Linked DNA regions of Homo sapiens: region 1 is linked to region 2. The links come from fine-mapping of genetic effects on gene expression. Tissue or cell type: whole blood. Region 2 holds a variant in brackets; the other region holds the start of a gene. All regions are shown on one strand. Distances are from middle to middle.

Region 1 (2,742 bases), 73 kb after region 2:
ACATGTTGAACTCTGATGTGGGGCTCTAGAGTTCCCCAATCAGGCTAAGGGAAGTGAGCAGAGAGAACAAGATAAAGAATGGGCACTTCCTTATAATGGTTTCCTGGGAAAAGCTCACCACCTTCTGAGAAGCAGGAGAAATGACCACGCAGACCCTGCAGGCAGAGGCTGTCAGTCTCTGAGCCCGGGCCATGGCTGCTCCTTGTGTCAAAGGAAATGCTACCAAGTGTGTAGCCCGCCTGCCTGGGGCACCTAAGCTGAGGGTTTGACCATGTGCTTGATGTTCATAGGTAAAACAACTGCTGCGACCTGCACTGGCCCAGCCCGGAGTGCCTGTGAGGGGCCAGCTGCCTGTTCTGCCAGTTTGCCTAGAGGGCTGGGACAGGCTTGGCCCTGTGGATAAGGTTCAAACTCCCCTGCCTGCGGAAGGAAGAATGTGAAGCAGAGGGAAAGGAAGCTGGGATTTTGACTGTCTCTGTGTGCCCAGCCTGCTCTTTGCTGGTGCAGTAGTGGGATCCACAAGGTGAACCACCCTGTGACTGCTGACTTTTCCCACCACCACCTTCGTGGTGTTCCCATCTGCTGGATCCCCCTCCCAAACATCAGTCCTTGTCAGGATACCAAAGTAGCTCTTGGCCTCGCCGGTCTTGTAGCCAAGCTTATGAGCATAGTTGTCACCTTCCCCACCTCCCACCAAAAGTCCGGGATTTTCACGAGGGGAGCGTTTTATCTTTGGGCCCCTAGAAGAGTGCTTTGTAGTTTGTAGGTCCTCAGAAATTTGAGGTGAAGATTGAACCAATCATCAAGGAGCTTACACTTGACGTGGGAATCACGTAAGTTACCGCTAAACCACAAAGGTAGACCAGCCTCCCACAGCCACAACCTGGGCACTGAGGGAGGAGCCTGGAAGAAGGGCATTCCCATGGAACGTGAACTCCAGGAGGGCAGAACCTTGGTTTTGTTCACTCTATCCCCAGCCCCTAGAACTGTCCTGGCAAGGAGTAATAATAAGTGTTGGATGGATGAATATACTCACGGAAGTGGGAATGGGTGGGTGGAGGCAGGAAGCAGATATTTGCGCTATGCAGAAGTTGGATCCACCAGTTTCTTCCGCGAGCCCAGACTGGGCTTCAGCTTCCTCACCTATGCCTTTCTTGGTTCCCAAGTCTGTTGCGAAGCCACAGTGAGAGAAAGTGGCAGGACTAAAGGTGGTACAAATGCCAGAGGCTGATACTGCTGTGCTGCGCCTCCCTAGGCTGTACAAATTCTCCTCAGCCCCAGCTCCCTGGTCCCCAGCCTGGCCCTCTACTGCGGGCCACTGGGCTGCCTCCCGTACCCGAGCCTGGGCCAGGCTGTCACTGTGGTGCTCCTGCCAACCCAGATGCCCTGGGGTGTTGCTAAATCAACCTCAGCAACCGGATAGTTTGTTGGAGGCGGGAAGGTACGCCGTGGGTTCCGCCGCAGCCAGCGCTGGGGCTAGGCACACGCCCGTTGCCATGGAGACGGGGCGGGGCAGGCCTCCGCCCTCCGGGTCCCGCGCGCACGCGCCCACGGCCACGGCCATGTCCCGCCGCGAGAGGGGGCGGAGCGAGCGTGCGCGGCGGGCGCGCGCAGGCTCCGTAACCGAACCCTGAGCCGCCTGCGCGGATCGGCGTCCGCAGCGGGCGGCTGCTGAGGTGAGGGCCGGGCCAGAGGAGAGGCATACCCACTGGGGCGTAGGTCTGGGACTCCCCCTGTCCGCCCTGGCGCGACCTCAGGACTCTCCGTGTCCCCTCCGTGACCCCCGCGGCCCGGGCCGCTCTTTGCATCTTGTCTTGCCCACAGCTGGCCTCGGCCAGGTCCGAGGGCCTGGATGCGACCTTGGGGCAGCCCCTACTCTTCCGGGCAGCCCACTTCCGCGGCCACCGGTGCAGGGCATGCCCCGGGGCCGTGGAGGTGAGGGAAAGAGGCGCGAGTCGCGTTTTAACTCCGCCCCCGTCCCCCAAGGCCGCGCCTCGCAGCCTGGGCTGCAAACTTTAGCGTCCTTTAAGTTACAGACGTGCGTGGGGCTCCGTGAGGAGGTGGGCGAAGAGAAAGGCTCTGAGTAAATAGGCAAGGCCCGGGGTGAGCAGGGGCTGGAATCCGAAAGTGGGAGGCGGCGGCCCCCCACCCTCCATAGTCCTTCCGCCCTCTGCTAGCACCGAAGTTTAGCCCAGGACGGGGGCCGTTTAAGGGCCCGGCCCTCCGCCGCCGCGCACGTGAGCGGCACCAGGAAGCTGGCTGGGCGCAGCCTTCCCTGAGGCTCGCTGGCACCGGCCGCACGCGTCCATCCCGGGCCTCTGAGCGGAGGGGGAGCCGAGGCTAGAGGGAGGGCGCAGTCTGCCCAAGGTCAGCGGCAGCGGCAGTTTCTGGGCGCCAAGTGTGATTGGAGTACTCCAGGAAGAGGGGCGTGACCAGAGCTCTAGCGAAGAGACCTGACATTGTAAAGCTAGGTTTGGCTTCTGATTTCCACAGGGGGTTTGAGAATGGGACGAGGGTGCTTTAGAGGGACCGGTAGGCTTTCCCTGAGGACGGTAATCAGGGCATGATGGTTGGCTCAGTGGTTATTTCCTGGGCAGGGGTGACTGTTCTTTCAGCTCCCAGCACTGGAGCGCTCGGCCCCTGCCGCACTGGATGCCAGCAGTTACTAAAAGTGAGCCTGGCATTTCAGGTGAGCTCCCAGACCTTCTTCCTTTTCTCTTGAATATAGGGGAAATTCACGTT
Region 2 (2,500 bases):
TTGAACCCAGGAGGCGGAGGTTACAGTGAGCCGAGATTGCGCTATTGCACTCCAGCCTGGGGGACAAGAGCAAGACTTCATTTCAAAAAAAAAAAAAAAAAAAAAAAACCCCACAAAACCTAGGGCTTTTCTCAAGAATTTTATAACAAATCAAAGTCCAGGTCAGAAACTACAGACATAAGTAACTTACTGATTATTCTAAGAATGACTGCTTGCCAAAGAGTTTTATTTCCAAACTTAGTTCCTCCATTTGTGGTTGGGGGTAACTGGGAGTTTATGGAGCTTTAGGATGAACTTGACAAACTTGTTAGAATGTCAGTTTTACTGGAAGATTGGTGAAGTGGTGTCAAGGTTAGGAGGTTCGGTACTTTAACTGGTAAGGAATTTAAATGTTTTTAATAATGAAAATTATGACATAGAAATCAAAATTCACATACGTTTTTTGAGATGAAATAAGCTATTTTGGCTGGGCGCGGTGGCTCATGCCTGTAACTCCAGCACCTTGGGAGGCCAAGGCAGGTGGTTCACCTGAGGTCAGGAGTTAGAGACCAGCCTGGCCAACATGGAGAAACCCCATCTCTACTAAAAATACAAAACTTAGCTGGGTATGGTGGCCCATGTCTGTAGTCTCAGCTACTTGGGAGGCTGAAGAACGAGGATCGCTTGAACTCGTGAGGCAGTGGTTGCAGCGAGCCGAGATCGTGCCATTGCACTCCAGCCTGGGTGACAGAATGCAGTGGTGCTCACCTGTAATCCCAGGTACTCTGGAGGCTGAGGCAGGAGATTCGCTTAAACCTGGGAGGCGGAGGTTGCGGTGAGCCGAGATCACGCCACTGCACTCCAGCCTGGGCTACAGAGCGAGACTTTGTCTCAAAAAAAAAAAAAAAAGAATGAATATCAAAATAATTATGCTGAGTGAAAGCCAGAACTCCTGAGAGAGAGAGAAAGAAAAAGAGCAAGAGAGTGAGAGAGAGAATGAGAAAGAATGTGGTATTAAGCCTAAAATACCCATGATATATATATATATATGTGTGTGTGTATATATATATATATGTGTGTATATATATATGTGTGTGTGTGTGTGTGTGTGTGTGT[G/GTA]TATATATATATATATATATATTTGGCTTATAACTCCCATAGTCTTTGTTACAGTCTTTTGTTATAATGGTGCATGTGTTAGGCCTCAGGGGGAGACCTCAGGAAACAGAATCTCTCTGACCTACTCCTGCCATCCTTTTACCTGCCCCAAGGCAGGACTCTAAAATTCCAAACCCTCCTTTCTAATTATGGGTCATAAGACCCTCATTCCAGAGAGGGTCCCACTCATACGCTGGGGGAAGTAATACTGACATGAAGCTTCCATAAAAATCCTAGAGGGGATGGGTGCGGTGGCTCACGCCTGTAATCCCAGCACTTGGGGATCACAGCACTTTTGGGAGGCTGAGGAGGGAGGATCACCTGAGGCCAGGAGTTCGAGACCAGCCTGGTCAATATGGTGAAACCCTGTCTCTACTAAAAAATACAAAAATTAGCTGGGCATGGTGGTGCACGCCTGTAATCCCAGCTACTCGGGAGGCTGAGGCAGGAGAATTGCTTGAACCCAGGGGGCAGAGACTGCAGTGAGCCAAGATTGTACCACTGCACTATAGCCTGGGTGACAGAGCGAGACTCTGTCTCCAACAAACAAAAAACCCTAGAGGACTGAGTTTGGAGAGCTTATGGATAGCTGAACATGCGGAGGTTTCTGGAGGGTGTCACACAAAGGGAGGGTATGGAAGCTCTGCACCCCTTCCCCCATCCCTTACCCTAGCATCTCCTCATCTGTATCCTTTATAATAAACCAGTAAACATTTCTCTGAGTTCTGTGAGTGGTTCCAGCAAATTAATTGAACCCAAAGAGGGCTTCATGGGAACCCCAACATGAAGCCTATCAACTGGTGTGCGTCGGGGGGCAGTCTTGTGACTGAGCACTTAAATGGATCTGACACTATCTGACATAATTTCCAGGTAGATAGTGTTAGAATTGATTTGGAGGACACCTAGCTGATACCTACTGCAGAATTAATTGGTCGCTTGGTGGTGGGGAGAAATCTCCACACATTTGGTCACTAGAAGTCTTCTGTGGTGATGATTGTTGTTGTAGTGGTGTGAGAGCAGAGGAAAAACATGGTTTTAGAGTTTTTCCAAAAGAGAGTGAGAGAGCAAGAGAGAATACATCATGTGATTCCATTTATATTAAAAGTCTAGAAAATACAAACCAATCCTTAATGACAGAAAGCAGCTTAGTGCTTTTCTAGGGATAGGATTAGGGGCAGAGAGAGGAGAGAAGGACTTTAAAGCGGCATAAGAAAAACTTTCAGGGGTGACACATGATCATTATCTTGATTTTTATTAGTTTTATATAAATAGTATACAATCAAACCTGAATAAAGGTGGGAAAAATGTGAAAAAAAATAATCCAAGTAGCTTTTCTTTTCTTTTCTTTTTTTTGGGACAGAGTCTC

What was found. PIP is the estimated chance that this variant, and not a neighbour inherited with it, causes the effect.
Region 1: TEX264 starts here. The variant in region 2 is fine-mapped to the expression of TEX264 in whole blood (INTERVAL, PIP 0.98).

What each region holds. Positions count from the first base shown.
Region 1 is chr3:51,669,613-51,672,354 of GRCh38, forward strand. TEX264 (testis expressed 264, ER-phagy receptor) reads left to right here and starts at 1,640. Exons shown (of 5, transcript NM_015926.6): 1 at 1,640-1,676. It overlaps LOC124906237 (a long non-coding RNA gene), which reads right to left and starts at 1,493. Exons shown (of 2, transcript XR_007095907.1): 1 at 1,037-1,493; 2 at 1-44. RefSeq lists a silencer at 1,376-1,805.
Region 2 is chr3:51,597,082-51,599,581 of GRCh38, forward strand. All of the region lies in intron 3 of RAD54L2 (RAD54 like 2), which reads left to right. Among named protein-coding and RNA genes, the nearest start is that of RAD54L2, 60 kb to the left of the region's middle. The variant G/GTA (reference allele first, on the strand shown) is at 1,096.